Linked DNA regions of Homo sapiens. The gene in region 2 interacts genetically with the main gene of each other region. Each region holds a gene or a part of one and is shown on either strand. Other genes may lie near its edges. The genes, in order: SREBF2 and RBBP7.

Region 1 (3,817 bases), on a different chromosome or scaffold from region 2:
CTAAGAGGGGTGACATTTACAATTTGACTGATTTGTGCTATAGACCCTCCCATACCTACTCAGCATATAGAGATTTAACATCTCTGAAGACTAACACCTCCAGGAATAAAGGGGGAGGGAGGAGGGTGGGGGAGAAGGCAGCTCTTACTGGTACTTGAAGGGCAGCCGTCTGGATAGGGGTGGTGAGGGCGGTGAGGGCCGGGTTCTGGACCGCAGCCATAACAGGGCTGCCATCTGTCTTCAGTGTGGTCAAAACAAGGGAATCTGTCTTGATGATCTGAGGCTGGACCAGGACCTGGATGAAGAAGGAAGAAAAGTAAAAGGATGATAGCATTATCCTTCTGTTATGCATTCCTTTCTTACTGCATAGACCTTCCAAGAAAGAATGAGAAATGATATAATTTTTATGAAATTGAGAATAAAAAAATGAACAGGAAATTTCATAGAGGCCATTTCAAAAGCCGGCTATTTTGTACAGCCTGAATACCGGGTTCAGGTGGAGAAAGAGGGGCTAGCTAATGAGGGTCCTGGCTTTTTTTTTTTTTTTTTTTTTTTGCTGAGACAGGGTTGCTCTCTGTTGCCCAGGCTGGAGTGCAGTGGTGCAATCTCAGCTCACTGCAGCCTTGACCTCCCGGGCTCAAGTGATCCTGCTGCCTCAGCCTCCTGAGTAGCTGGGACTACAGGTGTGTGCCACCATGCCTGGCTAATTGTTTGTATTTTTTTGTAGAGACAGGGTTTCACCATGTTGCCCAGGCTGGTCCTGAACTTTTGGGTTCAAGAAATCCACCTGCCTCAGCCTCCCAAAGTGCTGAGATTACAGGCGTGAGCCATGGTGCTCAGCCAGGTCATGGGTTTTTAGGTTGAAAGACTTTCAAGAGGGTGGTGCCAGTGGCCCAGCAGGAGCAGAGCAGAGATGGGTAGGGTGGATGGCAGAGAGGAGAGAAAAGACTCAGGAAAGCCAGACACATGGCTGAGAAGCAAAAATAATAAACCTGATTTTTTTAAGATAAATTGTTAGTAAGAAAATATAGGCCAGATGTGGTGGCTCATGCTTGTAATCCCAGCACTTTGGGAGACCAAGGCAGGTGGATCATGAGGTCAGGAGTTTGAGACCAGCCTAACCAACATGGTGAAACCCTGTCTCTACTAAAAATACAAAAATTAGCTGGGCGTGATGGCGCGTGCCTGGAATCCCAGCTACTCGGGAGGCCGAGGCAGGAGAATTGCTTGAACCCAGGAGGCTGAGGTTGCACAGTGAGCCGAGATCGTGCCACTGCACTCCAGCCTGGGCGACAGAGCAAGACTCTCAAAAAAAAAAAAAGAAAAAAGAGGATATAGTCCACGATGATATATAACATAAAGACGTTTTTTGTGATTATAAAAATAATACACGTCCCCCAGCTGGGCACAGTGGCTCCCACCTGTAGTCTCAGCACTTTGGGAGGCCGAGATCGATGCACTGTTTGAGGCCAGGAGTTCAAAACCAGCCTGGCCAACCTGGAGAAACCCCATCTCTACTAAAAATACAAAAAACTAGCCAGGTGCAGTGGCAGGTGCTTGTAATCCCAGCTACTTGGGAGGCTGAGGCAGGAGAATCGCTTGAACCTGGTAGGCGGGGGTTGCAGGGAGCCAAGATCACGCCACTGCACTCCAACCTGGGCAACAAGAGCAAAACTGTCTCCAAAAAAAAAAAATTAAAAAAAAGATTAATAATACATGCCCCCCCTCCCCCCAACCCAATATATGTTCAGGATCCACAGCAGAAAATATGGAGAACAGAAAACTATGAAAGCCAAGGGCAGTGGCTCACGTCTGTAATCCCAGCACTTTGGGAGGCCGAGGCGGGTGGATCACAAGGTCAGAAGTTCAAGCCAGCCTGGCCAACATCCCGTCTCTACTAAAAATATAAAAATTAGCCGGGTGTGGTGGCACATGCCTGTAGTCCCAGCTACTCGGGAGGCTGAAGCAGCAGAACTGCTTGAACCCGGGAGGCGGAGGTTATAGTGAGCTGAGACCACACCACTCCACTCCAGCTTGGGCAACAGAATGAGACTCCGTCTCAAAACAACAACAACAACAAAAAAACACAACACAAAACTATGAAAAAGAAAATTATCTGGGAAATACCAATTTAGCACATTTCTTTCCAGTTTTATGCCCATTACATGTGTACGTAAGTGACTGCACCAGCCTTTCCTGAGTGCCAGTGTCTATCTACAGATATGGACTCAGCCAGGTCACTATACGCTGCTCACAGGTGCATCCTGGCGCCCTACAAGCTGCTTTGTGTACACTCTGGTTGGTCCTTCTTAGTATGTAGACCACATCTTCAACCAAGGACCAGTTAACAGCCCCAACCAGTGCCTCCCTGAATCCTTTCCAGCCACTTACCGGGACCTGCTGCACCTGTGGCGCAGCAACTGTCTGCACCGTAGCCGGGGCAAGGGTCTGCAGCGTGCCATTGGCCGTTTGTGTCAGCACCCGCTGGGCCTGTACTGTCTGCACCTGCTGCTGAATGGTGACCGGCTGTACCTGGGAGGATGTCACCAGGCTTTGGACTTGAGGCTGAAGGACTTGGGAGAAGAGGAGAAAGAAGGCACAGAGATGAGGAATGCATTCTGTCACTGCAGCTGCAGCAGAAACCTGAGGATGGAGTATCTCATAATGATTCCAACTCCCCACCTACTGCTGAAGATGATGTGCACAGCCATTTACAAGGTGGCTTAGACAACAAGAACATCCCATAAGGGCTGCATCAATTTCTGAGGGAACGAGTACAAATTGTTTTATTACTCTGGGTGCCAGGGTGGGGGAAAGGGAAGCTAATCAGCAAATGACTGCACCCAGCAAGGGAGTTAACAGATGTTGAGAATCAACAACTCCCTGGGGCTTCATTTTCTTCCATCCTTTCTGGACGGCAAGTGCACTTTGGGAGGACTGTCTCAGCTTTTTGCCTTTACATTCCCCCACCTGTCCCAATTCTTGAACTCCATTGAAGAACTATAAGATTCTTTGAAATTCAAAGCAATACTAATCTTACCCTGGGCTCCCCACAGAGTCAGAGGGAAATATGATGAAAAGGCACTGGGATGCAGCACATCACAGAAAGAACAGGCCCCTTTCAGTCATCCATTCCCTCAACACATACTAAGGGCCCAGCATGAGGCTTGCTACTTGAAGCTGCTGCACCTATATTAAAAGTCATATTCATCACCATAGTGGATGCTCAGATGTTTGCTGAATGAATAGTTCTCAACTGTGGCAGCTGAGATCTGGCTGCCGCCTAGCCAATTTCAAGCCTTATTCAAGTCTCCACCACTAGTTATCAGAATGGCCCTGTGTCTACTATGCTTGCTGGATTTTTTTTTTTCTTTTTAAGATGGGAGTCTCGCTCTGTTGCCTAGGCTGGAGTGCAGTGGCACGATCTCTGCTCACTGCAAGCTCTGCCTCCCGGGTTCACGCCATTCTCCTGCCTCAGCCTCCCGAGTAGCTGGGACTACAGGCGCCCGCCACCATGCCCGGCTAATTTTTTCTATTTTTTAGTAGAGATGGGGTTTCACTGAGTTAGCCAGGATGGTCTCAATCTCCTGACCTCGTGATCCGCCCGCCTTGGCCTCCCAAAGTGCTGGGATTACAGGCGTGAGCCACCGCGCCCGGCCGCTTGCTGGATTTTTTAACCAAGTATTTTTGAATTAGGCGCAATAGATATTAAGGTATTTGAAGCTGCAGAATGTGACATGCTCCTGTACCAGTTCTTATTGCCAGTTACCAGAACCTCATTCAGACAGGACCATATTGATATACCTGCCATTCCTGA
Region 2 (3,817 bases):
TCAATCCGTTATATGCCATGTAACATACTCTTCTATTATACAAGGGGCCTGAGGAGTCTTCTGGTTCTTCCCCTCTCCACTTTACTGAGAGAGGCATACTTCTTGCCCATCTTTCCAACGTACACAGACAGCACCAGGGTGAAAGAAAATCCCTGGCTCCAAAAGCATAGCTCCAGATAGTCCCTCATAAGCTATGCCTAAGGTGAGAGCTTTGCTAAACAATTCTGAAGAGAGCAGTTGTTCCCCGCAAGAGACAACCTCGTCGGAATGCACTATGCCTTATTTTTTTATCTTAGAATTAAGATTTAAACGAAACACTTCTTCACAAGGACAGTACTAAATACACTGTTTGGAACTGGGACATCACACTTTCTGACAAAGTCTGATTTGACTCTAGTTTGACAATGAGGTCTCTGCCTGCCAACTAGGTATTATGCAATGTATCTATTTTACCGAATAATCTTATCGGGTTAAAAATATGAGGTGGGGCTGGGTAAAACTCACGCCTGTAATCCCAGCACTTTGGGAGGCCAAAGCAGGCGGATGGCTCGAGCTCAGGAGTTCAAGACCAGCCTGGGCAACATGACAAAACCCCGTCTCTACAAAAAATACGAAAATTAGCCGGGCGTGGTGGGGTGTGCCCATAGTCCCAGCTACTCAGGAGGCTGAGATGGGAAGACAGCTTGAACCTGGGAGGTGGAGGTTGCAGTGAACTAAGACTGCGCCACTGCACTCCAGCCTGGGTGACAGAACCAGACCTTGACTTAAAAAAAAAAGAGGTAAATAGCTTTTTAAAGTACTCTTAAGGGGTACACAAGTGAATATACTGGCCGGGTGTGGTGGCTCACGCCTGTAATCCCACCACTTTGGGAGGCTGAGGCGGGCGGATCACGAGGTCAAGAGATCAAGACCATCCTGGCCAACATGGTGAAACCCTGTCTCTACTAAAAATACAAAAATTAGCTGGACATGGTGTTGCGCACCTGTAGTCCCAGCTACTCGGGAGGCTGAGGCAGGAGAATCACTTGAACCCGGGAGGCAGAGGTTGCAGTGAGCTGAGATTGCACCACTGCACTCCAGCCTGGGCGACAGAGAGAGTACTCTTAAGGGGTACACAGGTGAATATATTTTAAGATCACTGGGGCTTAGAAAACATACAGGAGTTATCAAAGCATACTGGTGGAATAGTTTACTACTTTGTTTTTGGGACAGGGTCTCACTCCCATTGCCCAGGCTGGAGTGCAGTGGTGTGATCATGGCTCACTGCAGCCTCAACTTCCCGGGCTCAGGTGATTCTCCTACCTCAGTCTCCCAAGTAGCTGGGACTACAGGCACGCGCCACCACACCTGGCTAATTTATGTATTTTTTTTTTTTTTTGGTAGAGACAGGACAGGGTTTTGCCATGTTTCCCAGCCTGGTCTTGAACTTGTGGGCTCACGTGATCCACCTGCCTTGGCCTCCCAAAGTGCTGGGATTCCAGGCAGGAGCCACCATGCCCAGGCCCAGTTTACTACTCTCAAATGTCCCTTGATTTCAAGCTCTCTTGTAAAAAGCAAAATCCTAGTGTATTTTCTCAAGGACCTTGGAATTGTTGCAGAGGCATAATATACAAAGTAATACGCTTTCCTTTCTCCCTAAAAAAAATAGCTGGAGACCTTGAAAACATTGTACTATGTGAAAGAATCAGTCCCAAAAGACAAAAGTCATATTTATATGAAATATCTAGAATAGCCCAATCTTATAGTGCCAGAAAGTAGCACAGTAGTTGCCAAGGGCTGGAGGAAGAAGAGAATTGGGAGGTGATAGCTATAGTTTCTTTTGGAGGGGATGAATAATGTTCTAGAATTGATTTGTGGTGATAGTTTTACAAGTCTATGAATATACTAAAAACCACTGACTTCAAGAACAAAAAAAGAAAAAAAACCCCCAAAACCCAAGAACACTCCCTCCCCACTGAACTGTACACTTTAAAGAAGTGAACTGTGTGGTATGTAAATTATATCTCAGTAAAGCCGTCATCAAAATAAAAGGGTCTGGAGCATTCTTACAAGGTGGGCTTAGTGAACATCTTCTGTGTGCAGGGCTTGCTCTCAAGGACCTTCTTTACCTTTGAAAACTTGTGGACATTCAATATACTCCATAGGTTCACAGAAAAAATGAATAAATAAAACTCATGGACAAAGTACAAGTGTGCCAAAAATGAGTACTGGCATTAGAACTAAAATCGTAAATGACAGAGTGATGAGTGACTATCGGCCAAATAATGGGAGGAGACAAATGTTGGATTCAGAGCAAGGACAGGGAACCATTGCTAAATCCGGCAATGCTTCATAGAAAAATGACGAAGTGAGCACTGAAGGACTCAGACGGGAAGAATGAGGATGGGCAGATACCACCACATAAGCTTTCAAAGGGCCAAGGAGATGCGTGATGCTTCAATCAGGCATGGGAGGGAGATAGTGGGCTCTGCTAACATCAAGATTGAGAAAGCACTCCTTTTCTGGGCAGGAAACTTAAAAAGCATTTAAAATTTTTTCTATACTGTTAGGAAATGTTAAGTACTGCCAACTGAATAGCAATTATACTCACTCCCCATCCCCAAACCATCACAAATACCAGAGTTGAAATCAGTGAGAAATTACTATATACTATTTTCCAGGACCTCAAACCATTCTCAGTGAAACATTCATAAAAACCTACTGGGCTCCATTTACTATTTTTGATAAATGTCAAAGCCCAGTTGCAATAACCTTCAGGGCCTCCATTTTGAAACCATCTGCAAGAGCTAGAATTCGAAGTTCTGACCCATTCTCGAAATAAAGAGATCAATGACAATCCAATCTGCATATGACATTTCATCTTCTATAAGCCAATGCGTACCAGGAGTTCTGGAGGCCCATCTTCTGCATCTTCTGCTGATTGTTCTTCCCCAATTTTACTGTAAGAATAAAGAATATAACGCTTTCATCAGTGAAATTCTTGTAGCACGAACATCTGCTAAACCAGTATCAGCCCAGAAAGTAATCTTAAAACATAAACACACTCACAAAAACAACTTATTTCTATACTACAATCAATTAGGTTTTTTTTTTCCTTAGAGACATGGCCTCGCTATGTTTCCCAGGCTGCAGTCAGTAGCTATTCATTCACAGGCACGATCACTGTGCACTACAGCCTTGAACTCCTGGGCTCAAAAGCGATCCTCTCGCCTCAGCCTCACCACATCTGGCTACTGTTTATATTTGGTGTAAGGACGGGATGTTTACTTTCTGGAAATAAGTTAGAGTTGTTCATAATTGAAGTTGCAGAATGAGGAATTATTGTCAATAATAAACATTAACTCAAAATCCCTTCATTAACTGTTTATTGCCTTAGAATTAAAAGGTGAAATGTATAGTTAAAAAAATCTACACATAAACTGATGTGCAATCCCTATACTTCACTCAAAGCCTGTTGCATCCCAGGAGTAAAATATAATTACAAATCAGTACTATAGATCTGTCTAAAGATATGGCAATAAAACTTTGAGAAATGTGTAAGCCAAGGAAATGTTTTTATGGTTTTTCTCTTAAAAACTTCAATTTGTAGAATTTGCCAGTGCTCAACAGTGAAATCACTCTTTATGTATCAATATCAGCCCTGTCCTTATACCTAGCCCAAAGACTTTAGTAGTAACAACTACTAAAAAACAAAACCCAGCCCTCCAAGTGAGACATTTTTTTCCTTCCCACAAAACTAACCAAACAATCTCAAACCTGTGGGATTGCTAGACAATACTTATCTTCCACCTGTCAGTATAGTTGCTAAAACTCACCA

The links.
Region 1: changes in RBBP7 (region 2) and SREBF2 together harm fitness less than expected from each alone (positive genetic interaction), as found in Homo sapiens cells (one large-scale study listed by BioGRID).

What each region holds. Positions count from the first base shown.
Region 1 is NC_000022.11:41,867,367-41,871,183, reverse strand, and holds part of SREBF2 (sterol regulatory element-binding protein 2), read right to left. Parts: intron 2,574-3,817; coding exon 2,392-2,573; intron 296-2,391; coding exon 149-295; intron 1-148.
Region 2 is NC_000023.11:16,846,363-16,850,179, forward strand, and holds part of RBBP7 (histone-binding protein RBBP7), read right to left. Parts: intron 2,940-3,817; coding exon 2,882-2,939; intron 1-2,881. UniProt on the Homo sapiens protein: Core histone-binding subunit that may target chromatin remodeling factors, histone acetyltransferases and histone deacetylases to their histone substrates in a manner that is regulated by nucleosomal DNA.